Linked DNA regions of Homo sapiens. The gene in region 2 interacts genetically with the main gene of each other region. Each region holds a gene or a part of one and is shown on either strand. Other genes may lie near its edges. The genes, in order: AMHR2, GRM2, LARS2, SSTR5, AKT2 and ERBB4.

Region 1 (3,434 bases), on a different chromosome or scaffold from region 2:
TCCCGAATGAGCACATTCTGGCTGCTCAGATCTCGGTGGGCAATACCTGGTTTATATTGGCCTGTGGGGGAATCCAAGGTTGAAGGAACATGGATTTTCTTCCTCCCTCTTTTTTTTTTTTTGAGTCGGCGTCTCGCTCTGTCGCCCAGGCTGGAGTGCAGTGTCGCGATCTCGGCTCACTGCAACCTCCGCCTCCCGGGTTCAAGTGATTCTCCTGCCTCAGCCTCCCGAGTAGCTGGGACTACAGGCACATGCCACCACGCCCGGCTAATATTTTGTATTTTTAATAGAGACAGGGTTTCACCATGTTAGCCAGGATGGCCTCGATCTCCTGACCTTGTGATCCGCCCACCTCGGCCTCCCAAAGTGCTGGGATTATAGGCGTGAGCCACCGTGCCCGGCTCTTCCTCCCTCTTTTGACCCAATCTTTCCCCTCCAAACTAAGGCAGAATCACAAACATAGCACTGTGGCTCCCTTGACTTCCTATGCCCAGCTCACCCACCATTCTGCCAGCGCTCCTCATGGAGAAATGCCAGGCCCTGGGCCAGGGACAGTGCCATCCGCAGGGAACTTCCCCAGTCACTGGTGTACTGGGTCAAGTAGTGGCACAGGGAGCCCTGGGGAAACGCAGAGAGAAAAGGATGGTACACAAAGCTGGAGACGGCTGATCCATCCCAGGGAGCAGAGATCAATTGACAGTCTTCTCCCTGCATCTCCCCAGCAGACAGACACACTGATGGATGCTGGCCAAGACAATAGGTAGAGGAGTAAGACTGTGCATCAATTGACATGAAAAATAGTAACTCTAGATCAAGGGTACTGGGCACTTACTGTGGTCCAGACCCAGTGGATGTGGCCTCCTGTAATCCTTGTGAAAACCCTAGAAGGTAGGTGCTCCTGTCACACCCCCATTTAACAGATGAAGAGCTTTTCCTTACAGAACTAAGGAAACTCTCTTGAAGTCAGTCGGTGAGGCAGGAGTGGAGCTTGAATCCAAGCAGTCTGACTCAGGATCACTTACTAATAACCACCACCTTATACTGACTCAGAAGACATGCGGCAAAGACAGTAACAGAGGAGGCAGGGCAAGCTAGTCAGGGGCATCCTTCATGAGTCACCTTGTCTGAGGTGTCAGGCATGTGTACACATAGACGGGCAGAGCCAGTAGATAACAGAGTAGCAGGTGGAGGGCAAGTGGGAATTGGAGGGAAGGGAGCAATAGAACCCCTCATTCAACAAGTGTCATCGAGCACCTTCGGTGGCCACGAACTGTGTTCAGGCACCAAGATGGCTCAGGGAAGGTAAGAGATAAAGAATGCAGTAAACCCCAAGATAGGAAAATTAACCGAGTGCCAAGGGGCATAAAGCAAGAATGACTAACCCTGCCTGGAGAAGTCAGAGAAATTAAACAAACAAAAAAACAGTGATTTTTGAGCTGGGCCAGGAGGTATATGGTCAAAGAAGGGACTTTCCATCATTCAAGATTTCAGAAGTACAGAAGCTGTAGGTGCTGAAAAAGTTCAGGGAAGAGCCACTGCATTTGGGCTCTGAAACAGGTGGTGGAGGTTGAACTACTTACAATAGGGCAAAGTGAGTTGTGGGGAGCTCTTCCACGTGGACAGAGACACACACAGTCCTGATGGAGGGGTAAACAGGAGGCAATAGACACGATGATGAGGAGCCAGCTCTAGAGTCACATAGATTCTGGGCAAATGACTTTCCTTTTCTGAGCCCCATGTGGATAATCATTCCTATCTCATAATGTGTTTGTGAAGGGTAAGTTTGGAAATGTGTTTAAAGCGTGTAGCATGGCCGGGCGGGGTGGCTCACGCCTGTAATTCCAGCACTTTGGGAGGCCGAGGCAGGCAGATCACTTGAGGTCAGGAATTTGAGACCAGCCTGGCCAACAGGGTGAAATCCCGTCTCTACTAAAAATACAAAAATTAGCCAGGAGTAGTGGCGGCACGCCTTAATCCCAGCTACTCAGGTGGCTGAGGCAGAATTGCTTGAAACCAGGAGGTAGAGGCTGCAGTGAGCCAAGATTGTGCCACTGCACTCTAGCCTAGTCAACAGAATGAGACTCTGTCTAAAAAATAAAATAAAATAAAATAAAATAAAAAGCGGGTAGCGTAATGCCTAGCAGGAAGCAGATGGGAAATGGTATGAAAACTTAAAAAGCCCCAAATATTTAACAGGCCCACAGGGCCTGGTGTGGCTGGCCTCTGCCTACCTTTTCCTCTTCTTGTTGCTCATTGCTCTCCCCTTCAAGTCACATCTTATTATTCTTATAGTTCATTGGCCCTCTCTCCTAGCACTTAGCACACTTGACATTTGACACTCGTGTTTACTTGATCCATTTCTGTCTCCCCTGCTAGTCTATAAAATCTGTAAAAGAGGGACTGTGTGTTTTTTGTGGCCTCTAGCATAGTGCCTGACATATAGTTCATACTTATTTGTTGAATGAATACGAATGAGTTTGGAGGGCTGTGCCTGAAGATATTTCTTTAACAATTTTTTTTTTTTTTTTTTTGGCTGGGCACGGTGTCTCACACCTGTAATCCCAGCACTTTGGGGGGCTAAGATGGGTGGATCACTTGAGGTCAGGATTTTGAAACCAGCCTGGCCAACATGGTGAAACCCCGTCTCTACTAAAAATGCAAAAATTAGCCAGGCGTGGTGGCAAGCGCCTGTAATCCCAGCTACTGGGGAGGCTGAGGGAGGAGAATCGCTTGAACCTGGGATGCTGAGGTTGCAGTGAGCCAAGCTTGTGCCACTGCACTCCAGCCTGGGCAACAGAGCAAGACTCCGTCCTCCCACCAAAATAAAATAAAAATATATAAACATGTATTGTTTATGTAATAAAAAAGATAAATAAAAATTATTATTTTGAGACAGGGTCTTACTCTGTCACCTAGGCTGGAGTGCAGTGGCACAATCTTGGCTCACTGCCAGCCTTGACCTCCCCAGGCTCAGGTGCTCCTTCCACTTCAGCCTCCCAAGTAGCTGGGACCACAGGCATGTGCCATCACACCCAGCCAATTTTTTGTTTTTTGTAGAGGTGGGGTTTCACGGTGTTGCCCAGGCTGTTCTTGAATTCCTGGGTTCAAGTGATCCTCACACCTTGGCCTCCCAAAGTGCTGGGATTACAGGCGTCTGCCACCGTGCCCAGCCTGTTACTATTTTTTCACATGGTCTCGCTCTGTCTCCCAGGCTGGAGTGCAGTGGGATGCTCACGGCTCACTGCAGCCTCAACCTCCTAAGCTCAAGCGATCTTTCCACCTCAGCCTCCTGAGTAGCTGGGACTACAGGTGTGCACTGCCATGCTGAGCTAATTTTTGTAATTTTGCAGTGATGGGGTTTCCTCATATTGCCTAGGCTGGTCTTGAGCTCCTGGGCTTAAGCGATCCACCCACCTTGGCCTCCCAAAGTCCTG
Region 2 (5,041 bases):
TTCCAGAGAGTAGACCTCTGGCCTGGTCCCGCCATTTTGAGGGTCTCTGGCTCCTCCTTGGGCCTTGCCCACTGTCTTCTGTCTCCTTATCTTGCCAAAGGTGGAGACCAGGAGACCTCAAGCCCATTCTCAGGCAGCACCAAGAGTTAGAATCAGTCTGGCTTGAGGGTGAGCATCAGGATGACGCTCTATATTCACGGAAAATGTCTTTCTGTCTTTCTTTTTTCTTTTCTTTCTTTTTTCTTTCTTTCTTTCTTTCTTTCTTTTCTTAGATGGGGTCTCACTATATTTTGTAGGCTGGAGTGCAGTGGTTATTCACAGGCACAATACAGCCTCCAACTCCTGGGCTCAAGCGATCCTTCTGCCTCAGTCTCCAGAGTAGCTAGGATGACAGGCATGTGGCACTGCTCCTAGCTTCAGGGAAAATTTCTATTCCTAATCTTGATTTTCCACTCAAGGTGACCTGAAAGTCTCCTGAAATCAAAAGTTATTTTAATAAGAGTGCCAGCTTTAAGAGAAATGACTGCTGCAGATCATCACTATGCTTCAGGAAGAATCACCGTGGGAACAGTGGGAGACAAAGCTTGGAAGCCCTGGCCCAGGGTTAAGATGAAGAGTACTTCCAATAGAACTGACATTCAGAGTTAGCTACAATCAGTGTAGGGGTTAGGGTTGGAATCTGGGGTCCGATTTGGTTGATGTTAGAGCAAGGCTAAATTCAGCATGTTTGGCTTGGGTGGAATTTATGGTAGGGCTAGAGTTGGATTTTGAGAACTTTTAGGCTGAGTAGAAAGAGTAGGTGCTTGAGGGGACCTGGGTTTGAATCTAGGCTGCACTATTCACTCATGGGGCCTTAAGCATGTCTTCTGCTTTCTTGAACCCTGATTTCTCACTGGGGCCAGGGATGGCTGTAAATCCTGGCTAGAGCCTGGCTGGGAGATGTGAGGTTTACAGGGGATGAAGTGGGGGTGGAGAGAGGAAGTGATTTTCCAGCCACTGACCACATTCTGGTGAATGGCAGTGGTTGCAGGTGACCAGTGAGGTTGGGATTCAGTTTGCACCAGGATGACTGTTAGGACTAGGGGTGCTGGAGCTGGGGTTGTTGTTAGGATTAGTGGGGACAGGATTGGAGCTGAGACTGGGTTTAGCCTTAGCATTGAGTTTGGGGAGAGGGCTGTAGTGTATGTTTCGATGAAGTTGGGATTTGGAGCCTGGGTTGGAAAGTGTTGGATAGTACTAAAGTTGAATTTGGGGAGTCATGGTTGGGGATTGATGTGGGCATTAGGTTTTTGGAGATGTCTGGGCTTTAAGGCTGGGATTACATTTGGCATTTAGGGTTGGGGTTTGATGTTGGAGTTTAGGAGTAAGACTTTGTTGTCATCTCTCATTTAGAAAAATGATTGGGGTCAAGGCAGGATTTAGTATTGGGTTAAGGATTGGAAGGGCTAATGGTGGTCTTAGCTCTGGCATTTGGGTTCCATGTTAGGGTGAATGTTGAGGTCACATCAGGGTAACACACTAGTCCAACCTTCTCTTCCTTCCCTCCCCCATCCTAGCCCCCTTTCGCCCAGCTGACACCCACAATGAGGTCCGCTTTGACCGCTTTGGTGATGGTATTGGCCGCTACAACATCTTCACCTATCTGCGTGCAGGCAGTGGGCGCTATCGCTACCAGAAGGTGGGCTACTGGGCAGAAGGCTTGACTCTGGACACCAGCCTCATCCCATGGGCCTCACCCTCAGCCGGCCCCCTGCCCGCCTCTCGCTGCAGTGAGCCCTGCCTCCAGAATGAGGTGAAGAGTGTGCAGCCGGGCGAAGTCTGCTGCTGGCTCTGCATTCCGTGCCAGCCCTATGAGTACCGATTGGACGAATTCACTTGCGCTGATTGTGGCCTGGGCTACTGGCCCAATGCCAGCCTGACTGGCTGCTTCGAACTGCCCCAGGAGTACATCCGCTGGGGCGATGCCTGGGCTGTGGGACCTGTCACCATCGCCTGCCTCGGTGCCCTGGCCACCCTCTTTGTGCTGGGTGTCTTTGTGCGGCACAATGCCACACCAGTGGTCAAGGCCTCAGGTCGGGAGCTCTGCTACATCCTGCTGGGTGGTGTCTTCCTCTGCTACTGCATGACCTTCATCTTCATTGCCAAGCCATCCACGGCAGTGTGTACCTTACGGCGTCTTGGTTTGGGCACTGCCTTCTCTGTCTGCTACTCAGCCCTGCTCACCAAGACCAACCGCATTGCACGCATCTTCGGTGGGGCCCGGGAGGGTGCCCAGCGGCCACGCTTCATCAGTCCTGCCTCACAGGTGGCCATCTGCCTGGCACTTATCTCGGGCCAGCTGCTCATCGTGGTCGCCTGGCTGGTGGTGGAGGCACCGGGCACAGGCAAGGAGACAGCCCCCGAACGGCGGGAGGTGGTGACACTGCGCTGCAACCACCGCGATGCAAGTATGTTGGGCTCGCTGGCCTACAATGTGCTCCTCATCGCGCTCTGCACGCTTTATGCCTTCAAGACTCGCAAGTGCCCCGAAAACTTCAACGAGGCCAAGTTCATTGGCTTCACCATGTACACCACCTGCATCATCTGGCTGGCATTCCTGCCCATCTTCTATGTCACCTCCAGTGACTACCGGGTGAGCTACCTGCCACAGAGGTCGGGGGAGATGGGACACCAGACCCTCTGTTTCCTGGTATCTTATTTAATCTACTGGTAGCTCTGGGGTTCCAAGAGGATAATGCCCACTCAGGGGACCACAGCTTGTGTGGATCCCAAGGGGAAGGTGGGAGGGCTGAATAGGACCTAGGGAAATGGCCAGGGAGGTGGGGAACTCGAGTTAGAGAGAGCTGAGATTTCAGGACTTGAATGTCATCCCCTATCCTGGAAGGTGATGGGGGTGCAGAAATATGTTCAAATGGACAGGGTTCTGCCCTGCTCCACTGAGGGGTCATCTGCAGAAGGGGTTGAGAGATGAAGCCAGGGAAGGCAGGAAAGATGAAGCAAGGTGGGTAGGGGAGGAGATCCAGGGTATAGAGTTGAGAAAAGCTAAAGCAGGTGAAAATTGTTCCCCAGTTGGTGGCTTCTGAGCAAATTTGGTTCCAACTGGCACTGTGTCTCAATGGGTCTCCCCAGCTCCAAGGGGCAATGGCTGCTTCAGATAGGGTGGTCAGGGAAGCCCTCTCTGAGGAGGTGACAGATGAGCTATGTTCTGAGTAAGAAGATTATCTTGGTTAATCTTCATAACTTGAGTAAGCTCCATGGCTCTCCCGTTTTACAGATGAAGAAACAGAGACTCAGGGAGGTTCAATCCCTTGCCCAAGGTCACTCAGCTTGGGAGTGCAGAGCAGGGTCTGAACTGCAGAAAAATTGAGGCGAAAGCCCCGGCAAAGGCCCCTTCCCCAGGACAGAGGTGTGGTGGCACAGTGCTGGGGGCCAGGGACCGCTGGGCTTGGCTGCTCTGCTTGCACCTGCTGGGCCACCTGCTTGGGTGGTAGAGGCCAGGGCTGGGGAGGGATTCTGCTCTGACTCAGCCTGCATTTGCATATGATTTGCATTTGCATGCCAATCACAGGCAGCTAAGGACTCACCTGAGACACACACCGTACCCACACATGCATGCACACACACACACACACTTGTACACACAGACATAGCCACATGCATGCATGCACACACACATATCCCACATACACACACTCGCTGGCACACACACATATATCTTCCTGACAAATGAATCCATACCCATGCACCCTACACTCACGCACACATACACTCACGCAGACACCTGCAGAAATTCACCACCCCACATACATGCACTTACACAGATATACACACACACCTACATGCACGCACTCCATTCCTGCAGCCCCCAGATGCACACACCCCTGTGTATACATGCCCCCCTGCATGTTCTCCCCTTCAGCTGGAACTCTTGTCACCCTGGGAAAATGGTCTGGGTCTGATGCTGGGACTGTGCCCAATTTTCCTAGCAATGCTTTGGGATCCGGCAAATGGACCACAGCCCAGTGTTGGATGCTTAGTCTCCCCCACTCCCTCCCCCACAGATCAGGCAGGGGGTCCTGGGGTCAGGCCCAGGTCTTGACCTGTGCTTGTTCACCCACTCACCCACCGCAGGTACAGACCACCACCATGTGCGTGTCAGTCAGCCTCAGCGGCTCCGTGGTGCTTGGCTGCCTCTTTGCGCCCAAGCTGCACATCATCCTCTTCCAGCCGCAGAAGAACGTGGTTAGCCACCGGGCACCCACCAGCCGCTTTGGCAGTGCTGCTGCCAGGGCCAGCTCCAGCCTTGGCCAAGGTCAGTGTCCTAAGCAGCCCTCTCTGCCTGTTCCCCTCTCCCTGTCCAGCTCCTTGGGTTGCTGAGATCTCTTGTCTGGGGGTGAGGTGCCCCCCAAATGACACTGGCAGGAGAGGACAGGAGAGGGGAGGGGAGGCTTCCCTCACAGCCCTGCTTCCCCACTGCCTGCCCTCCATGGAGGACCTCGGGATTGGCCCCAACCTCTGGCTTCCTTTTCTTAGGGTCTGGCTCCCAGTTTGTCCCCACTGTTTGCAATGGCCGTGAGGTGGTGGACTCGACAACGTCATCGCTTTGAAGACCCCATACTCCCGCCCTGACACAGCTGCTCCTGGGAACCTAGTGCAGACCCACGTCCAGGGCCAGGAGGAAGTTGGCTGGAGCACTGCAATAATTTATTACCCACCCTATGTCTGCCCCCAAAGTCACTTACCCACCTCCTTACCCCAGCTCTTCAGACTCAGAAGTCAGGAGCCTTGGCCAGGAGCCTCTGCAGTGGCCACTAACTGCCCTTGTAGCTGTGTTTCCTCCTGGCCAGGCCCAGGGCTCAGAGAGGAGCAAGCCAGGGTTCACTCTGCCCTGGACCCGGGTGGCTGAGGACGGCAGGCCCCAGTCCTAACCAGCAAAGGTGCTTCCAGCCCAGCCCCTCCCCCCAACTAGGGCCTTTTTTATTTTTTATATAAGTTACTCTGGGATGGGGAGGGTGGTTATTGTGGGGGCTGCCCCTCCCCC
Region 3 (5,041 bases), 6.3 Mb from region 2:
CCTTCTGAAGAATGGCTTCTGTTTGGCAGAGATTGGGTTTTTATGCCTCTCTTCTGAAAAGACAGCTAAATGGTGGGCCAGATGTCATCAAGTGGGAAAGGAGAGTAATTCCCGGATGTACCAGAAGCATCTACAGTGCCACGGGAAAGTGGACAAAAGAGTATACATTGCAGACAAGAAAGGATGTTGAGAAATGGTGGCATCAACGAATAAAAGAACAGGCCTCCAAAATTTCAGAAGCTGATGTGAGTATTCTGAGAGATTCTAAGAGGGTAGAGAAGAGGGGTTGAAGGTTTGGACCCTGGGGTTAGACTACCTGGTTCAAATAAGATATTAAATATGTGACCTTGAACCAAATTGTTGAATTTCTCTGTGCTTCAATTCTCTTATCTGAGATGGAGAGTGATCATAATAGTGCCCACCTGCACTATTGGGAGGGGTAAATGGATTGGGAGGCATAAATGAGGTGATACAAAGGTAGTGTTTACAAGAGTTTCCAATGTGGTGGATGCACACATAGTAATATTGCGCACGAGGTGTATGACAGACAGCAGCAAACCAGGTGTTCTAGAGCAACATTTACTGGGGAAGCTCATCAAAATAGGAGCTCTACCAGATGATGGGTCCTTTGTGGTCCATTGCATGGTGGGGCAGCACACAGGGATCTGGCAGGGTCATATCTGAGACTCCAGGAGAGGCACCTGGGCTCCTCGCTGGCTACATGTTCTGAGAAGTAACTGCCCCTTCCCTGGCAATCGTAGCCTCCAACTCTGTTCTGCTGCCTTAGCATCATGGTTTGGGGCACACCAGCCCTTTCACTGTTGTGAACTGGGGTAGGGTCTAACCTTGAGGTAGCAGCTACATGAGTTAGTGGACCCTTGGCTTCTGCACCAGGTACACCAGCTCGGCACTCTACCTGAATTAATGGTGGAAGCATAATACTTGGCTGCAGCCAGTTTCCACAGAGTGCTCTCTGTTCCTTTTCTGGGAGGCCAGCTTGCTGGGAATCAGTCTGGAACGTGTTAACCCTTACCTCTTGATACTGGTCAAAATGACAGCTGGGAGATGTGATTGTTACATGAAATGTTTGAATCTGATTGGAGTTTTAAATTCTGATCATCTCTTTGTAGTAGTTATAGTCAAATAATACAAACCCTCTATGTTTAATAAAGAGATTAGGCCCAAGGCAAGCAGCTGAATAAGTACAGCTGCACAAGACCACACCTCTCTAGACTTGCCTTTTCCCCATCTCCTGATTCGGTCAACACATTCATTCTTTCTGTGAGATTGGTGGTTATGAAAAATGAGTAAGGGGAGGAGAGCTATTTGTGTTAAACTGAAAGATGATTTTGGGCAATGGTTAGAAAGAAAAATTGCTATTGAAAAAGATGTAGTGTGTAACAAGTAAAATGAAATGAAAAAAAGGGAAGGTTTGAATGTAATACATAATTTTACAATGAAAGCTTGACTTCTACCTTGTTAGGAAGTGAAAAGCCCTTGTGTCAACATCATCAGACTAATGTAACTTAATAGATTTTGAAAACAAACTCTTAAGGAGCAGTTTAATTCTGAGTGAGGACAGTAAAATTAGCTTTTTTTTCCCTTTTGGTTTAGATAATCATTTATTGACTTCCAAATGTTTTGATGTTGTAGCTTACTGATTTTGTGACATCTCATTCTTCTTAAGCATACAGTTTTTTAAAATATCAAATGGATCAAAATAAATTGTTTTAGCAATTGGGGAGATAGCATAAGGGGCATTGTGTGTGATCCCCTGGCAGCCCCCTATCAGGGTTTGAATCAAGGAATGGCAAAGCAGAGTGAGCACTCAGTGAGTGAGCCAGAGCCTGGGCTGCAATGCTGGCTCTGCCCCAGGAAACCTGTGTGATCCAGGCCACATCATTTAATGTTTTGGATTCTGGGCTCCTTGCATTGTTTATCTCACAGAATTGTTTTGAAAATCAAATGAGAAAATGTGTGACAAAATGCATTTTACAAACTGAAGTGGTACATAAATAAAAGATACACAAAGATCAGAACGTGGTGTGTCTATCAGGACCTGAGACTATGACGGAATGCTCATGGATTTTGAAGCATTTATAATCGATCTCACTCTGGTATCAGATTCACTTGAAATCCACTCACATAAGTTTTTTGAAATGGAATGTCTTGAAATCACCATATTTATCATTTAAAAAATAATTTGCATTTAATGAGCATTTAACCATGTGCCAGGCACTGTCTTTCAATTGATTATCTCATTTAATCCTGAAACAACCCAGCGGGTAGGTATTATTATCCTCATTTTTGGAGTAAGAAAACTGAGGCTCAGAAAAAGGTTTAGGTAATTTGCCAAGACATGGCAGAGCCAGGATTCAAAATCAAATGTGTGTTTGATTCCTGAGCTCATGCTTTTCCACACAGAAACCTTCTTTTGTCTCACCTTTGATTTACAGTTAGCAAACTGATCCCAGAAGGCAAAAGAATTTGCCCAAGGCCTCACAGCTAGTGACAAAGCTAGGACCAGAACTGGGGCTCCGGATTCCTATTGAGGTGCTCCTTTTACTCTGTCACCCTCTAGGCTCAGCCACAGCTTCAGAGCGTGATCTATAAAGAGGCAGAAGTCATCTTTCTTCTAAAGTCAGAAGCTGACAAAAATAATAGGACCCACTTATAAAAGCCATCCTTTCCCTATCATTTAAATCTTAATCTCTTTTAAAGGCTTAAATTCTTATACTTTTATATAATTATGAAAATTTCCCTTTCAATCAGATTCTTGCTCAATTATAACAGAAACTCCCATCATTCCTTCTCTCTTTTCCACCCCCAGATGATAGAACTCATTTCATTGTCACAGAGGAAAATGACTTAATTCATGCAGAAAAGCAAAAGGCAGGGACAGGCAATAAGCTGAATACCTTTTCTGTAATAAACAGAAATCTTCATGAATATTAAAGACTTTAGAAAACAATACTTTTCTATGTATCTTTTATGAACTCAGATTTGGATTTTGGCTTAGCTAGTATATAATTATTCATTTGATTTTGCTATTAATTTAATCTTTATTGAACAAATGTAAAACAAGAGATGCTAGTAAAGAAATTACAGGTGGAAAATGTTTGGGGCAAGATTGGTAAATTAAATACATAACAAACATTAGTATAATAAAAATAATTTTATGTAAAAACTTTCAAATGAAAAACTAGAAACAGCTTAGATCAAGGATTTTACTGTTTTCCTAGCTCCCAAAGAACTCTTAACAGCTATTTTCCCATATTCCTAAAAATTTCTGAAGAATAAGCCATAAGCCTAATTCATTGTAAGGAGTAAGGCATGAATTGAGTGGATAGTTTTCTTCTGATTCTGCACTAAGTAAAAGAATGGGGTCTTGTACCTCCTTGGACGACTTGCTCATAAGCTGAGAAGGTTATCTGCCACTCACTTTCTTAAGGACAGTTATTAAGTTCCTGAGTTCCCACCAACCCCTGAATCTCAGGTCCTCTCTCAGATTTCTGTGGTTTTCCTAAGAGTTATAAATCTGCAGTTTCTAATTAAAGTGTCTGACCAATGTGTTGCTTTCCATCCTGTTTGTATAAATCCATTGTAGTTGTCATTTCAGCAGTTCCAGATGATTTTCTAATTTGTGTATGATCCAGATTTCTTAATTGTTCTCTTTTTCCCATCTCTTCCTTCAGGCAGCTTAACACTCCTTGGTAATTTCTAGAGGATGGGCAGCACAAAGAAAAGTTCTACTCTAGTTTTTGTGGGTTTCTTTTTGCCACGTGCTAATGGTTCCGTTAAAGGTTTGTTTAACTTCTTTGCTGAAAGAAGTTTACGAACTCCTTGGCAAGAATCTGATTTCTGGTTTCTTCTGCTCTACTGATTATATTTGGTTTATGTGTATTATCAGTCATGCGAACATTCAGCAAACAATATTTAAAAACCCCATCCCACATATGTACATAAAAGAAGGGTTATGAATATTCTGTTTCGTGTTTGTTTGCATTACTTCAGGGGAAGCAAATTCTTAAAGAACTGGAGTAAAGTTCTAGCAAGGGAATAAGGCCAGGAAGAAAAAACAGAAGGCAGAAATAAATAAAAGCAGAAGTTCTGACCCTTAGTGACGAAACAGAATCAGTTACCCAGTTACCTGTTGCTCTTCCTTTCTCTCCAGCCCCTCCACCCTTGACCCTGTCATGAGATGATTTAAACTTGGGTGTGGGGAACCCTCCTATTACTTGGGTAGGATTTGTGAAGTTTGCTGGGTAAAAAGTGCTCCATAGGGGCCAGTTATCAGGCTTTTGGAGCACAAAGGCCAACGAACATTTATCCAACATTTTATGAAACTCCTGCTGGCACTGGGGGCAGACGTGGAGAAAGAGGTGACTAAAGCACAGTTCTTGCCCTTGAACAGTAGGTCCCCCCATGAACAGTAGGTCCCCCCAGTAGGAGTTAATTCAAGGACTACCATCTTTGTTTGCCTTATCCATTCATGTGCACACTCATGACGACATTCATCATTTTACCAGGGGAAGAATTAAGATGCCAGAAGTCAGTGATCCAATAAGGACTCATTGGCCTGTGTTCCTTCTGTTCAGATACATGTACAGTTGTCTATGTTTCTCATGATGAAGCTGCTTCTTTGGAAGCTGGAGAGTTATATAACCCTGGTCTGAGGCTGCTTATTTATCATCCCTGGAGAACAACAACCTTCTCCCTTTTTAAAAGGATCTTCTCATTACCTTCCCATTTCAACATTTTTGTTGAAAGATAGGCTCTCAATACAATGGGGAAACTCAGGACCCAAATTGGTACTTTAGGATCCTGTTATTACTGCTAAACCTACGTCAGAATGCAGCTATAGAGAATTTAGGAAGAGACTCCATTTTTAGAGATGTTACATCTATGTGATTCAACTATTGCTTCTTTGAATTATATGGATATATGTATGTTAGAGCTTCCTTCGGAAAAACAAACAGTTCTTTAAGGACCTAGATAGAAGCTGTCTTAAAAGAGAAGTGTTTTTTTGTTTTGTTTTGTT
Region 4 (5,693 bases), on a different chromosome or scaffold from region 2:
GAAAGGGAGGGGAGGTGAGGGGGGAGGGAGAGGGAGGGGGAGGTGGGGAGGGAGAGAGAAAAGGTGGGGGGAGAGGGAGGGGGAGGAGGGGGAGGGAGAGAGAGGGGGAGGTGGGGAGGGAGAGAGAAAGACAGGGTGGGGGGAGAGAGGGAGGGAGAGAGAGTGGGGGGGGAGAGAGAGAGACAGGGTAGGGGGAGAGAGGGAGGGAGGGAGAGGGAGAGGGAGGGGAAGAGGCCTGTGGCTCTCCGCTCCCCAGGGACCAGCATGGAAATCCAACACGCCATGTTTGCGGCTCCCTCTGGCTGCCTGTGGAGCATGCATTCCGGAAGGACAGTGGTCTGGAGACAGCCCGCGGGCTGCGTGGGAGTCCAGGTGGGTGGGATGGCGGCCCAGGTGCAGAGGCCTCTGAGCTGCACCCTCCCTGGGGAGGCACTTTCGGCCCATTCCTCCGTAGCAAGGAGGCCAGGTGGAGGGGACAGAGGAGCCACCGATGGTGGGACAGGGAGAGGGCGGCTGTCGGGCTCCGGTCCATCTCCAACACAGGCCCTGGGTCCCCAGCACGTGTGGTTCCCAAATGCCTGTTTGATTTTTTGTTTTCGAGATGGGGTCTTGCTCTGTTGCCCGAGCTGGATCGAAGTGGTGCTGTGATCACAGCTCACTGCAGCCTCGACCTGTGCTCAAGTGATCCTCCTGCCTCAGCCTCCCTGTCTTTGTAGCTTCTTAGCTTCAGAGGAGCCTCAGGGTTCCTCCAAGGCCACTCCCATGCCCAGAGCCCAGCGAGGGGCTCCACAGGCTGCCAGGTCCCCGGCTCTGCGGCCCCCAGTGCTCCACCTCCGGAGTTAGACTTCAGAGCAGCAAAGGACACAAATAGACCATTATTGCTGTACCTGACTCTTGGAACATAATTCTGCAAGAGCCGTTATTTGGAAGCAGTATCCTCTGAATCATAAAATTACGCACTCACGGGGAATTGTCCCGGTGGCCCTGTCCCTTGTGGGTGGGGGATTCACTGGAGGGGGAGCCAGCAGTAGGAGCTTTCTGATCCCGAGCCCTCGGCCACGAAGGGATCTGCTCAGCCTGACATGGCACTGGGAGAGACCCCGGCCCCTGACCACTCCCCACACGGGCTGCGTGGTCTGGGGTAAGTCACGGGCTTCTCTGAGCCCAGCTTCTGGGATAGGCAACTCCTGCAAACTGTAGGGTTGCTGAGCTGATGAAACTGAGTGAGCTTCTGTGTGCAGGGTGCTGCGTGCATCCACTCCCAGCAGCATCCATCCCTCCCATCTCCTGCCCCCACCCCACAACTCACCATCTGCAGGTGCCCGGTGTGCCAGGGTCAGCCCAGAAGCCACAGGGGACCCAGATGGCCCCAGTCTGCCCACAGCACCGCTCCCGGCCTCACCTCCCCACGACGGGGACCACAGCGGGGCTGGCATACACTGGGCGCTCAACGATTGCTCCCACAAGCTGCCCTAAGCAGCCCAGCATTTCCCCAGCATCCAGGAGGCCGCTGGGCTCCTCGGAGAAGGGGGCAGTCTTCACAGGGGCCTGGGACCAGAGGCGGGGCCTCAGCACCAAGTCCTCCATGACTGGGTGGAGGTCTAGCCTGCACCCTGCCAACTCCTTCCAGGCTAACCCAGCACGAGGTCGGGGAGTCGGCTCCTTCATGGGGGGCAGCGATGCGGCTGCAGCTTGGAGGGGCTGCGGAACCTGCTGCTCGGGGAGGCAGCGGCTCACACGGCCGGGGCCCACGCCGCACCCTGGAGAGGCTGCAGACCCACCCGGGCTCCTCCATTGTGTGCTGGGCAGGGGCAAACGTCGGGGGACACCCTAGCTAAGACTACAGGCCCCAGCCCCTCCAAAGGCCCCGGAGCCAGGCCTGTGCTCCCAGGACAAGCGTTCTGACCTGTTTCCTCTGTCGTAAGGGTGGCCTGGTGGCAGGCCACTGCCCCCTTGGGGTCCAGCTCTGTGAGTGCAGCCAATGGCACCCCTGCCTGTCCCCCACATACACGCCACCTGTCCCTGCGGCAGCCTGTGGCCAGGGGCACATACCCTCCCCAGGAGAGGGAAACTGAGGCAGGTGTGGGCCAGCCTGGAGCAGCAGCAGCAGGGGTCCCGCGTGCTCCGCGAACGCTTCTCGGGGCACCCTCCACACCAGGCACCTCCTGACAGCCTCGCTGGGTCTTGCTCTGGAAATCAACGCCAGGCGCCTGTCCTTGGTGCTGTTGACCAGTTTCTGCCCAGGAGGCTCTGGCAGTCCCCACCTACATAGTCCAGAATCACTGCCTTCAGAAAGGGCTCAGCCTCACTGGAACCATCCCCAACTTCTGTCACCATGCACTCCGCTCTCTTGCCCTTGAGGGGGCCCCAGGCAGGCTGGCAGGCTGGGGACAGCGGGTCGGGCACGTGGGTGGGTCTGGGGTGGGGGAGGAGGGCCAAGGGCACACACCCCAGTGGCGTGTTCTCTATTCTGGAGAGGGTGAAGACGCCAGGAGGATTCCAGGTACACGCGGTGCCTTGGACAGGAGGGGGCTCTGTTCGCAGCGGGCGGGGTGGCACCCCAGCCTCCCCAGTCTTGGGTTTCAGGGAACCCATCTGTGAGTGCCAGGTCACAGGGCCCCTGGGTGCTGGCCTCTGCCTGCTGCCTTCCAGGAGCTCACCGACCCAGCTGCGCGCAGGCACCAGTTGCCTCCCCCGGCACCCAAATTGCGGATCCTCCCCTCGCTGGGTGCCACGGGCACCCTGGGACCCTCCTTCCGTGGCCCAGTGGTTCCCTGTGGCCTGAGTGCCACTTCCGGCCCCCAGCCCCAGGCTCCGAGCCCTCCCCAGCCTTACCCACCCTCCTCCAGCTCCAGGAGCCAGCCCCGCTGTGGCCCCCGTCGTGGGGAGGAGAGGCCGGGAGCGGCGCGGTGGGCAGAGTGGGGCCATCTGGGTCCCCTGTGGCTTCTGGGCTGACCCTGGCACACGGGGTGCCTGCAGATGGTGAGTTGTGGGGTGGGGGCAGGAGATGGGAGGGATGGAGCTGCTGGGAGTGGATGGAACGGGAGGGGAGGGACCCCCGGCGGCGGCAGGAGAGCCCCGCGGGTGTGCGGAGGGCGCGTGGGGGACAGTGCGTGCAGCGGGCTGGGGGCGCACGGCGGGACCCCGGGCCGGGGCTGCGCACACAGGGTGAAACCCCCAGTGGGGATAACAGCCGAGGGCAGGGGGTGCCCGCGCGGGAGGGGGACAGGGGCGGGCGGCACTCACCTGGGCGGCGGCGCCCTCTGAACGGGGGAGCCCCGATGTCCGCGCGGCACTGGCTCCGGGCTCCCGGGCGCCGGCTGGGAGGGGGCGGGGCGGGGCGGGGGCGGGGCAGTGCCTGGTGGGGGCGGGGCAGGGCCGCTTCACCTGCTCGACTCCCGGGTCCCACGTCTGGCCTCCGGGAACCCTGGCGCACTCGCCCACAGCCCTGGTCCCACTGGCAGTGACCCCATGATCGCCTGCGCCCCCACCCTATTTTCTTGCTGTCCGCTCTGTGGTAGACCCCAGCTTGGGGTGGGGGTCCTGCCGCCAGCAGGAGTCCAGGGGGTCCCTCGTCGAGAGTCTGAAGAGGGTGGAGGGTCCTTGTTCAAGGGGAGAGGGTCAGGGGCTCTGCAGACGTCTCTGAGGGGTGGGCTGGGGTTGTGGAGATAAGTGGGTGTGTGGAGGCTGGTGGGGGCGGCAGGCAGCCCCAGCGAGGGGGGTCCGTGGTCGTGGGATTTCCAGGACACTCCACTCGGGTTTTATCCATGCCTTATTTGTGGATCCTACACATATTTAAGCATAGACTACCTGCTAAGTTGTTCTTTTTATTTCCCCTGAAATGAATCCATGGGTACACCTTAGTCCCTCACCTAAGGTGGGGTTCTCAGGCAGGCAGCAGAGTCACCTGGGTCCTCAAAGCAGATTCCTGGGCCTCGAGCTGGGCCCCCGACTCCCCAGGCAGTGAGGGCCTGGGAATCTGCATTCCTGAGAAGCTCCCGGGATGCTGATCCCCGGGCCCGCCGTGAGCGCCGCTGGTTGTAAGAAGCGGGACCGAGCGCCTCCTCCCGCTGAGCGCGGAGGCTGGGGATCACCGGACATTTTCCCACCAGGAGGTCCCCCAGCCCCCTCCCCTGACTCTGTGCCGACCCAGGGAGCCCCGCCACTGGCTGAATGAAGTGAGGCGCCCCCAGGTGACAGCAGAACTCGGAGGGCCCCTCTCTGAGGGGACATGGGAGCAGCCGCCTGCCGTCTGTTCACAGGTGGGGTCGGCTCCTGTTGAACAGGCGCCAGCAGCTCCCTTGAAGGCCGGGTACCGGGACCATGTTCTCTCCTTTAAGCGTTTCAGTGTTTCCACATGTTCTGCAAGCAGCGCGTGTTATGTTTACCATCGAGCAAGAGTGCTTAGAGGACCATGGCACCTGGCCCCAAGGTCCCCTCCCCTCCTCCCCAGCCTGCGGCCATGGCCAGGCCCTCAGGGGAGGCTGCAGGCTGGTCCCAGGTCCCCTGCCCAGAATCCGCCCCATAAGCCTTTCCATCCTCTCTGGAGGTACCTGGGCTGTATCCCTCCCACCCTCCCACAGCAGTGGCTTCCCAAGGCAGATCCTCTGAGAACCCCCTTTGTGACCCCTAACGCCTCCCCCATCTCCATCTGCTGCCCCTCCCCTCAGCCTCTGCCCACCATCCTCATGGTTCTCGCCTCAGCCCCTGGCTGTGTTCCTCCAGCTCCCACTGCCTCGCACCTGGGCCCCCATCTGTCATGTTCTGGGGCTCCCTGAGAAGCCTCTGGGGTCCCACTGTTCTGGAATCACTGGGTGCCCCAGGGGTGCAGGGTCCGGTGTGCGAGTCACGGCCCAGCGCCCAGTGGGAGCTCAGCCCTGCGGGTGGGTGGGCGCTGGATCTACTCACATCCCCAACATCAAGCTGGGACACCCCCCACCTCCAAGCACCTGGGCCCTCCTGGGGGCCTGATGGCCAGAGAGGGGACCTGTCGGCCCCACAGTGCCCCTCCCCACATCGGCCACCCTGAGTTCTGGGCAGGAGTCCCCTGGCCTCAGTCCCACCCACCCCAGGAGGATCAAATGAGGTCATGCCCGCCTGGGACGCTGCAGAGGTCAAACCCAGCACCGTGAGGATTAGGGGCTGCCAGTAGCCATGGCAACCGATGGTGGCTGGATGGACTCCGCAGGGACGGTCCTCAGACCCCTCTCCAGGGACCCCACCCTAACTGTGACCTGTCCCACGGCCCGTGACACCCCCTCTCCTGAGGCTGAGGACAGCAGCTCCCGGACACAAAGCCCGTGCCCCTCCCCCACCAGGCAGAGGCTTGGTCACTGGGCTGACTCCCCTGTAATTATTCAAAAGCAACAGGGGCTGACTCCAGCTCACCTGGAACACCCCAGAGGCCTCTCGTCTTAGTCCCCAGACTGGGCTGGGCCCTGGGGGTGGCGGCCAGGAGGAGTGTGGGGCACTCTGCCCTGCAGCCAACAGGGCCCTCCCTCCGCTCCTCCAAAGGGCCCCGCTGCCCACTGTCACCCTCTGAGCATCAGGCGTTTGCCCTGGCTGCCCCCCTGCCTGGTGCACCCCACCTCCCTTTCTGCAGGTAACTCCCCTGGCAGCTCAAGCAACGCTTCCTCCGGGAAGCCCGGGCCGCCCCACACTTGTTCCGTCGACCGCTGCCCCCAACAGCCTGC
Region 5 (5,041 bases), on a different chromosome or scaffold from region 2:
AGAGACGGCCGTCAGCACCTGCCTCCCGGAGCAGCTGGGTTCGGGCAGACGGGCTTTCGGAGCAGGCAGGCCCTGTATGGCCCTTAATGATTCTGTCTTGACCACAAACCACTTCACAGAGGAGGAAACCGAGGCTCAGGGAGGGAGCTCACGTGCCCAGGGTCAGAGCCAGGGAGTCAGCAACCCGGACCCACGTGTCCTCACTGCCTGGCCTTACCCTGAGTCCAGAAAGGGAGTTAGTAGGGCAGGCTCCGTTCCTATCCTGGCTCTGCCACATATGGTTTGGTGGCCCCAGCCAGGCCCAGGGGATGCCCTGTTCCTCAGTGTCCCCATAAAATAAGGCAGTGTCAAGGATGGGCCTGCCCTGGGGGAAGCACTCCCTAAGTGCCACTGTGGACGTTTTCAGGGGCTGTGTGGGGACGACACACTGCGACCCTACAAGCGAGCACCCTTGTGGACGCTGCCCCCTCCAGGCCGCAGGGACAGTGGCAGCAGCTGGCGCTGGGCTGGGTGGGGCCGACGCCAGCCCTCACCTCTGCTTGGGGTCCTTCTTAAGCAGCCCAGCAAGCAGGGACTTGGCCTCGGGGCTGAGCGTGCGCGGGAAGCGGATCTCTTCCATGAGGATGAGCTCGAAGAGGCGCTCGTGGTCCTGGTTGTAGAAGGGCAGGCGGCCGCACATCATCTCGTACATGACCACACCCAGCCCCCACCAGTCCACGGCCCGGCCATAGTCATTGTCCTCCAGCACCTGAGGATGGAGGAGAAATGAGGGCTGGGCCCGTGGCCCTGAGGCTGGCATCACAGTCCTGCCCTCAGGGCATCTGGGCTGGAAACACACAGGTCTGGGGGATCCCCCTACCCTTGGCCTCACACGTTCCTACCCCCACCAACCCCAGACACCTCAGGCGCCAGGTACTCCGGGGTCCCACAGAAGGTTTTCATGGTGGCCCCGTCACTGATGCCCTCTTTGCAGAGGCCAAAGTCAGTGATCTTGATGTGGCCATCTTTGTCCAGCATGAGGTTTTCCAGCTGTTGGAAAAGTCAACGGATCTCAGGTGCATGCTCCCAAGGCTTCCTGCCACCCCAGCCTTTCCTTCCAGGGAAAGATGCCCGGGGCTCCTGGACATCAACCCTCCCATGCCAGGCTGGGCCCAGCACACACAGCCTCACCCTCTGAGGCTCAGAGAGAGGCCAGATCCAACCCTCCTCACCCTCTGGCCCACCCCCATGGTACCTGGGAACAGCTGGGCAGGGAGAGCCGAGAGCCAGGCCCTGTCCACCCACCGTCCCCATTGTGAACTGTGGTTCTTATTTCGAACGTGGGGGCACTAGCTTTCTTCTATTCTTTTTTTCTAGACTTTCTGTCCTTTAATTATGAAATATGCAGCCAGGCAAAGTGGCTCACACCTGTAATCCCAGCAATTTGGGGGACTTAGGTGGCAGGATTGCTTGAACCCATGAGTTTGAGACCAGCCTGGGCAACACAGCGAGACCCCATCTCCATATTTCTTAATATGAAAAAAAAAATTAGCCAGGCATGGTGGCACACACCTATAGTCCCAGCTACTTGCGAGGCTGAGGTGGCATCTCCCCCTGGAAGGCCCTGTGTGCCCCTCCCGGTTACTGACCATCCCCCACAAGAATTAACCTCTACTTCCCATCTGTACCACTGCACACAGACACACCTGTGAACTGTGGACTCACCTCCTCTGTGCGGCTTTCCCTCGACATTAGCCTATGAGACGCGTCCACACTGTCGTGTGTAGCTGTAGCTCATTCCTAACTGCTGTGTGGCGTCCCACTGTGAGAACACTCCACAGTGGATCTGACTGTTCCTCTCACAGTGGATACTTGGGTTGTTCCAGTTGGGGCTAGAGTAAGTCCTGCTGCTGAGTGAGGGGGACACTTTCTAAGGTGAGTGTGTGTCCCCACTTCTCCTGTGCACACAGCTAGGGCAGATGACTGGTGCTCAGCTTTGGTGGACACTGCCAAACTATCTTCTAAAATTGGCCGGGCGCGGGGGCTCATGCCTGTAATCCAAGCACTTTGGGAGGCTGAGGTGGGTGGATCACAAGGTCAGGAGTTTGAGACCAGCCTGGCCAATATGATGAAACCCCGTCTCTACTAAAAATACAAAAATTAGCTGGGCATGGTGGCGGGCACCTGTAATCCCACCTATTCGGGAGGCTGAGGCAGGACAATCGCTTGAACCCGGGAGGCAGAGGTTGCAGCGAGCCGAGATCACACCACTGCACTCAACAGAGTAAGACTCCTCAAAAATAAATAAATAAATAAATACAAATAAAGTAGGTATTGTGGCAGTTGACACTCCGCTAGTGGCCTAGGAGCGCTCATGGGAGGCTTGGGAAGGTCCCTACTTGGGGCAACTTGCCACAGAGCCACCACCCTGGACCTTGGTGGGGAGCCTGGTGAATGAGGGCAGCCACCACCCTGGACCTTGGTGGGGAGCCTGGCGAATGAGGGCAGCCACCACCCTGGACCTTGGTGGGGAGCCTGGCGAATGAGGGCAGAAGCTCAGCCCAACTTCCCCAGTGTGAGTCCCATGTGGTGTGCATGCCACAGGTCAGCCTGGCGCACACCCTGCCACTAACCTTGATGTCGCGGTATACCACGTCCCGCGAGTGCAAGTACTCAAGAGCCGAGACAATCTCTGCACCATAAAACCGGGCCCGCTCCTCTGTGAAGACACGCTCCCGGGACAGGTGGAAGAACAGCTGCAGGAGGAAGGGGTGGGGAGAGGAGGTCAGGCCCCAGCCCACCCACCTGCCCTCACCTTCCCAGCCCCCTGCCCCAGCGCAGTGATGTGGTGACACCTGTATCATGAACCAGCAAGTGACAGCTAGAGGGACCAATCAAGGCAGAGCGCAGAAGCTCATAAGTGACACAGAGCTGGGGGGAAGGGCGAGGGTCTGCCAGGAGGCACCCATGAGAGGGTATGGGAGAGACATCCGAGACAGGAGGGAGGATGGCATGGAGGCAAAAAGAAGCACACGTCATGACCAAGTAACAATAGGCCATGGGCAAGCCCAGATCAGACAGATGAGCAAACCACGCATCCCAAAGCAGGTGTGCCAACCACTGCACAGAGAAGGCGCGAGGCAAGGAGTGGGTGACAAAAGTGAGGCGACTCTGTAAGGGGAAGCTGAGCGGCTGCGGGAATTCACTTCGAGAGGACACGGGAACGGAGGGCTGCTAGGTTTTAACCCTTGGGGGCTTTCTCTGGGGCCTTTAAGACCATCCTTCCCAGTGCTATCGCCCCACAGCCCTCTCCACACCTCTCTGGACTGGTTTGGACCTGACCCACCCACTCACTAGCTGTGTAAACTTGGGCAAGCCACTTAACCTCTCTGAGCCTCAGTGACTGCCCCCCCAAAATGGAGACGAAGCCGCCTGCCTCAAGGGAGAGGGGCACTAGATGACACTGAAATTTCCCTCCACCCTTCCATCTCACCCACAGCTCCTCTCCATCCCGCCCCACCCTAAAGAAGGAGGCCCCAGAGGGCAAAGTCAAGGCAGCCGCGGCTCACCTCACCCCCGTTGGCATACTCCATCACAAAGCACAGGCGGTCGTGGGTCTGGAAGGCATACTTCAGCGCCTGGGGGATGAAGGCAGCAGGGTGGGAGGTGGGAGGGAGGAGGGCTCTGCTGAGCCATGCCAGGGCAGGGCCCTGGCCCTGCTTATTCTGCACACACACACCCTGCCCTGGCTGGGGCCCCCAGGAGTCAGCCATATGGGGTTCACATACCGGCTGCACCTTTTGGGGCATTAAGTGAAGGCATGGCTCTGCGGTAGGAAAGGGTTACATGCTGAACCATCTTGTCCTCTGCCTCCATCAGGCACAGCCAAGGGAGAACTAGAGCTGTTCTGAGCAACCATGGCTCTTGTTTTTACAGTAAAATGTGTTCAACTTACACACACAAGTGATGTCTGCTGTGGCTGGGAGTGGCAAAGGCTTGGGAGCCAACTTCAATGACAGGATGGACAGGCTGTCAGTCAACAAACAGTAGTTCTCCACTGCACTAAGGAGATCTACAGAGAGTTCCTCAGAGACTCCCACCAGGGGGTCCTTCAGCTCATGACAACTCAACTATTCTGTTTTCTGCACTGAGGTACCTCATAAGATTTTATTTGAAAAAGTACTGTGGCTTAATAGGATACCTGGACAGCAACTGAGATAAAGAAATGATACATAAGCCATCCTCAATCTAGTCCATTTAACTGGTGGCCACTGGCCTTGATGGAGACTGCAGCCCAAACAGGCATCTACTCAGTCCAGGCTGACAGACAACACAATGCTAACACATCTGCTTCTATGAGCATATCTGAAAACAAAAACAAAAAAAATAATGTTTCCACTTCAACCAGCTGGGCTAAGTGCTCCTAACTCATAGAGACAGCAGCCAGCAAATAATGTGATATCTTCAGTTAGTTCAAATGCTTACATGAAGCCACCATCTATGAAGAAGCTGTCACCCTCCCACTCCCCGAGCCTGCTCACCCCCACCACATGTCTTGGTTCGGATGACTTGGCAGGGCGCAGCAACACCTTGCCCTGCCCGCCTGGCCTACCCCAAGACTGTGCTTTGTACCAGAAGATTAGGGCTCTCTCTCTGAGCTCTGTCCAAAGGCTGGCCTCACACTGTCTGGGAAGGGGAGGGCAACTCACAGTGAGGAACGGGTGCCTGGTGTTCTGGAGGACCCGGCTCTCGGTGACTGTGTGAGCGACTTCATCCTGCAGACAGACTGCGGGTGAGGGGCTGGTGGGCAACACCACACCTGCCCACTCCGCCCCGACGAAGGGGAGCAAGGCCTTGTGAAATGCAATTCCATTCCCAGCCATAAATGCAGAAAATCACAGGAGTGAAAAGTGAAAGCCTGCAAACCCTCAGCAAATAGCAGACCCAGACGAGGATCATCAGTGGCTCTCAAAGCCACAGGTGAAAAGTCAGCAGGAATGTCACAATGTAAGGACCAGGCTGCTAGGGACAAGACACCTGTGACGTCCCTGCAAGGGAGACA
Region 6 (5,041 bases), on a different chromosome or scaffold from region 2:
ATCTTCATGCCATGTCTTTCCTTTAGAAGGTATTAGCTCACACACTATAACACTTAAACACTATTCCTTCTCTTAAATTAGATATTCAGTCCTTCTCCCTAATCTACAAAAAAGAATCACTTGATTTTAGTTTGTGTGTTTTAATAGAAATTTGAGTTTTGCGTTGTTTTTCATGCTATTTTAAGAATGTTACTGGAGAAAGGATTCTCATCCTAAGCTGTGCTACTAATACTATGCAGAAAACCAGGAGCTGCTTGGTAGTCTAACACCTTTTGTGGTGCAGATGCTTTGTGGTTCTGGATCTATCCTAGATCAGAGGCCATCTTTCCTCACCTGTTTACCACTTTCTTTAGGCAATCATTTAACTGCAAAATTTTTCCATACCTGCCCAAAATAGGTATAATCTACAAAGTTGGGTGATTTAAAAAATATACTCCGTGTAATTTTAATACTAATTTGTCTCAGATTTACATAATTGATTCTGCAAATTTCAATTGCTACAATTGGCCTCTGGAATCTGATATCCCCCCAAGCACTTTGAAGACTTTAACTGACATTTTAAAATTCTACCCTACTGGACTAAATAAGTTATTCTCTGGAAGGAATGAAACTTTTTTTCTCCCTCTTATACATGCTGAAATATGTTTTCCCAGGGGGGACAAAAATAAAACAAAAAACACTCAAACAACTGAAGTCAATTATATACTACAGAAATCATTCAAAAGAATTATAAAGTGGTGCTATTATAAAGCATTTGGGTCATTTTGGATTATTCCTACATGCATCTCTAGGTATTACCCAACATGTAGAAGTCTTGTGTTCTTAGGAGGAAAGAGACATTCACTAAATACATTTCTGTTACCTTAACAGTTAAAAGTTTGTTTTAACTATTCATTTTTTCCTTCTCCAAAATGAGTGATTCTGCTTTCTATAGCCCAGTAGAAACCATATGCATATTGTAAATCAGAAAAAAAAAATCAAGGTATAGTATCCAAAAAGAGGGCTGTGATGACTCGATGCAGATTTATTTAGAAAGGGAGGCTTATATTCAATTTTTCATAAGTACTGATATGAGATCCCTTTTCCTAGAGACTTCTCTGAATGGATAGGAGAGCCCTGAGCTATTAGATTGTGGCCCCTGAATCACTCTGTGTCTTTACCCCTGAAAAGTTTGAGGGTGAACTTCACTAGAAGGAATCTCACAAACCCTTCTCCTGCTCTACCATACTTTTTCAGCTCGCCTCACTTCTTATAGCTTAGAAAAAAACCAACTCCAATGTCTCCAATATTCTTGGCCAAGGACCACCATCTGCTTTTGGTTTAATGGTGAAGTTAGACTCTAGATAGGCTAATTAGTCAGTGATGCAATATTCTCCTAGACCAGTTTATGTTTGAATAATATTATTGAAATTATCCTGTTTGTCAACATCAACAATTTGAAGGATGTTTAACTTATATCCCAAATGAGTTTAAAGGAGATATCTTACAGTACAACTGATTATATGACAGCTATTCACAAAAGAGACTATGCAATCTGATTGTTGGAACGCATAGAAAAATTAAAATGTCATTTTAATTAAATCTCCTAGATCATAGAATTTTGAAGTTGAGGATGATATTCCATTTATCTGAGTGTTCCCCACAAAACATGGTGCTTTTAGTAGACACAGTTAGATAAAGGAGGTTTGGATGGATGGATGGATGGATTTACTTGTTCAGAATAGGAAGAAACACAAATTTCTTTGGATTTTTTTCTCTAAACTTTCTCTGCCTTAATAGATATTTTTACTCTAATTAATTAATCTTATACTATTGATTCTAATTTGGTCCCAATATTTTAACATTAGAAATATTTTTTAAAAATCTAAATGACTTGGGGTAGAATTTTCAGAAAAGGGCGACTTATATCTAAGTTTCCTAATTATTGATGTGAGGCCCCCTTTACTTGGAGACTCATCTCTGTCATTTGTTCTCATCCTTCATCTCATCAGGTATTCTTTCAAAATGATACATAATAATGATGGTTCTAGTACTGGATGCAGTATATGAAGAAAGGGAATTATATAAAGTATCAAAAGATTAGTGTGTTGGATAATAAAATAATTGCATGAGAAGATGTTTCACATTTATTTACAACTTTTGACCCAAGGACCTATCCCTAAGCTTTGAATGTTTGTGTTTTTCTTTTTATTATACCAATTTATGTGCAAAGAGTTACCTTCTACTTCATATAAATAGTCTCATACTAGAAATTCCATGGAATTCAAGCCAATCCTTACTCGCATTCCTTCTTACGAAGTATACGAACTGAACAAATTTCCTTGCGTAGCAAAGGTGACATATGAAGATAATGTGCTGGCCTCTCATCATAGTCCCTGGATACCGTTGCAAGGTTCCTAATTTGCTTGGTTTGGCATTTCCACAGTCTTTATCTTAGCTCTTTTTTTAAAAATGTACTTAAATTAGTTAATTTGCTGGTTGCTTCCATATTGCTTGATTCAAAATCCAAAATGGAGTTCAGAAAAAGAACAAATAAAATTACAGCTTAAGTGCAAACTACATTTCTGAGTATCTGCCAGGTAGACATACCCAATCCAGTGTGTTTCTTCCAGTTCAATGGATTCCCTCATTGGGCCACCCCTGAAAGTATCAGTAGTTTTCCTGAACCACAGAGAACTGTCTCTTAGTTTCCCTTCTACTCTTCAGACAACCAACGGCCTATCAAGTAGTGTCATTTATGGAGAAAAAAAAATGTTGAAAAATGTAAAGGATGAGGGTGAAGATAATTTGATAGCATGAAAAATATTAGCCTCCCTTTCTTATTTTAAAGATTGTATACTTAAAGTAGTGGCCATTTCACTATATTAAAATATTTCTTGCTTAAATTCTGTGAAGAAGCTTTGATGTAAACATCTTTGCAATTAGAAATTAAAGCCAAAAATAGGGGAGCAAATATAAAGGAATCGGTCAGAGCAAAACAAAATGAAAAAAACCAAAAAGTGTTGAAAACATAATTACTAGTTATAACTTTAATGGAGATTTTTAAATTATGAAAGTTGAGTTGGCCATTCTTACTTGCTAGGACAGAAACTGCTGGGGAAAGAAACTGGATTCTCAATTTCAGACACCATCATATGTTATAGAAAATGTTATTCTTTTGTTCTAATGGAAACTTTATTATGATTTCCAGGGATGCTAAATATGCACACATCAGTTCCTGCAGATAGGAACAGATAGCATGGGTGTTTCAACCATCTGCTTTAAAAAAAAAAAAAAAAAAGAAGAGGAAGAAAGAAACAAAGAAAGAAAAAGAAAAAGAAAAAAAGTGACAGCTAGTTTGATAGTAGGCAGCATTGCCTTACATTTTCTGGTCCTTCTCTAGCTGTTTCATTCTCCTGACCAACCCATGCAGAGAAATGAAGAAACATTGTGGTTCCTCCTATCTTTCTCTTTCAGTCTTTCCCTCTAATGTTCAAGTTAGGTAAGCACATAACTATCATTGCATCTCTGTATCTTCCACTGGGAAGTGTCAAAACTACTGGCCTTGGGGTAGAAGGAAGACCACCAGAGAAAGAGAGGGGGGTGGGGAAATTGGAGCAGGTGTGTCTCTCCACCTAAAAAACCACAACTGAGCTTACACCACAGTATTCCGGTGTCTGTAAGGTGGAGGCGGCAGCACAGTGCCTGGCTTCAGGGAGAACTCAGAGAGGTATTCAGGATTCTCTGCCACAATAGGCCGGATCCGCCCATTCTGTTTATAAAAATATTTTGTGCTGTACTCCTGCAGGTAGTCTGGGTGCTGAAGGGTGCTCCGAGGTGGCAGGCTGTGGTTCCAGTAGTCAGGGTTGTCAAACGCTTTCTTGGCCTTCTCTGGCATTGACAGTATGTTGTTCTTCAGGTACTCAGCTTTTCCCAAGGTGTTGGCAAAGGTGTTGAGGTACAGTGGCTCATTCACATACTCATCCTCGGCCTTGGGTGGACCATTGGATGCATTGTGATATTCGGGATTATCCAATGCTTGAAGGTCTCCATTTTTTCTCCGAGAAACAAAAGGGTTCTCCTCCACTGGATTCAGGTATTCTAAAGGAATAAAAAAATATCAGCTAACCTCTAGTTTCTGGAAAATATTAATCAGACCAAGGTTATACATAATGGTTAGCTTCTTTGTCTAGAACAAAAAAACCCACAGATTTGTTTTCATGATTTCTCACAACAAGTATTTGTGGATCACCATTGTCTTATGAAAAAAAGAGTAAGTGGGTCAAAAATGTTTATAATAAAACAAGAAGCCAACGAGGCCAGAATCAGAATTTCTATCTCCTAAATTTTTCTTTCTTTCTAATTGCATTTGTCTCTTCTGCATATGGGGCTGGTTGTTTCAATGTTTTTGTTTTCTAAAAGTTATTTATATTAGGAAATAAGACTACCTATTAGGATTAAATAGTCTTTAAATATACAGACAACTTAACTTCTATAAAGGATATTGAAAAAACAAGAATCTATAGCTGAGTTCCATGCCAAGATGAATAGATGGAGTGAAGAAATCATGTTTTTTAGTCTCTATGGTTTGCTATGATTGCCTATACTGGTAACAAGGATTTAATTGGAGATGCTTCTGAAAAAGGTTTTACACATGGAAAAGAAAGCATCAAAGGAAAAAAATTCAACTAAAAAAGCAAATCTAACAGATAGCTAACATGCCTCTAGTTGACCTGCTTGACATTACATATACTTCTACTTAATAGTAAAGTATAATTATAATATTTCCATTGACCAATCATAATCACAAAGTAGCAAACTATCAGCTTGAATTATATAAAATAAAATAAATTTTGTATATTGAAACCAGTCAATTAGTGCCTATTTTGTACGGATCAATCTAATAAATCCATCTAGTATAGGTATTGGCCTAAAAGGTGCTAATAATTATCACCATTCTCCTGAAGCTTAATTCCACATCTATGTCTATAATATAGACTGCACATAGACATAAACACGCATGTATTGTAAGTCCTCTGACAGTCCTCTCTTTTACTATATA

The links.
Region 1: changes in GRM2 (region 2) and AMHR2 together harm fitness less than expected from each alone (positive genetic interaction), as found in Homo sapiens cells (one large-scale study listed by BioGRID).
Region 3: changes in GRM2 (region 2) and LARS2 together harm fitness more than expected from each alone (negative genetic interaction), as found in Homo sapiens cells (one large-scale study listed by BioGRID).
Region 4: changes in GRM2 (region 2) and SSTR5 together harm fitness more than expected from each alone (negative genetic interaction), as found in Homo sapiens cells (one large-scale study listed by BioGRID).
Region 5: changes in GRM2 (region 2) and AKT2 together harm fitness less than expected from each alone (positive genetic interaction), as found in Homo sapiens cells (one large-scale study listed by BioGRID).
Region 6: changes in GRM2 (region 2) and ERBB4 together harm fitness less than expected from each alone (positive genetic interaction), as found in Homo sapiens cells (one large-scale study listed by BioGRID).

Annotation. Positions count from the first base shown.
Region 1 is NC_000012.12:53,426,080-53,429,513, reverse strand, and holds part of AMHR2 (anti-Muellerian hormone type-2 receptor isoform 1 precursor), read right to left. Parts: intron 1,638-3,434; coding exon of another isoform or gene 1,581-1,637; intron 619-1,580; coding exon 504-618; intron 62-503; coding exon 1-61. UniProt on the Homo sapiens protein: On ligand binding, forms a receptor complex consisting of two type II and two type I transmembrane serine/threonine kinases.
Region 2 is NC_000003.12:51,713,506-51,718,546, forward strand, and holds part of GRM2 (metabotropic glutamate receptor 2 isoform a precursor), read left to right. Parts: intron 1-458; coding exon of another isoform or gene 459-478; exon of another isoform or gene 479-519; coding exon of another isoform or gene 520-616; exon of another isoform or gene 617-1,556; coding exon 1,557-2,632; intron 2,633-4,131; coding exon 4,132-4,312; intron 4,313-4,533; coding exon 4,534-4,607; 3' UTR 4,608-5,041. UniProt on the Homo sapiens protein: Dimeric G protein-coupled receptor which is activated by the excitatory neurotransmitter L-glutamate. Plays critical roles in modulating synaptic transmission and neuronal excitability.
Region 3 is NC_000003.12:45,394,443-45,399,483, forward strand, and holds part of LARS2 (leucine--tRNA ligase, mitochondrial), read left to right. Parts: 5' UTR 1-11; coding exon 12-245; intron 246-5,041.
Region 4 is NC_000016.10:1,070,376-1,076,068, reverse strand, and holds the start of SSTR5 (somatostatin receptor type 5), read right to left. Parts: upstream 3,323-5,693; 5' UTR 3,247-3,322; intron 1-3,246.
Region 5 is NC_000019.10:40,235,357-40,240,397, forward strand, and holds part of AKT2 (RAC-beta serine/threonine-protein kinase), read right to left. Parts: intron 4,755-5,041; coding exon 4,689-4,754; intron 3,618-4,688; coding exon 3,549-3,617; intron 2,736-3,548; coding exon 2,613-2,735; intron 1,030-2,612; coding exon 901-1,029; intron 749-900; coding exon 534-748; intron 1-533. UniProt on the Homo sapiens protein: Serine/threonine kinase closely related to AKT1 and AKT3. All 3 enzymes, AKT1, AKT2 and AKT3, are collectively known as AKT kinase.
Region 6 is NC_000002.12:211,379,981-211,385,021, forward strand, and holds part of ERBB4 (receptor tyrosine-protein kinase erbB-4 isoform JM-a/CYT-1 precursor), read right to left. Parts: intron 4,081-5,041; coding exon 3,635-4,080; 3' UTR 1-3,634. UniProt on the Homo sapiens protein: Tyrosine-protein kinase that plays an essential role as cell surface receptor for neuregulins and EGF family members and regulates development of the heart, the central nervous system and the mammary gland, gene transcription, cell proliferation, differentiation, migration and apoptosis.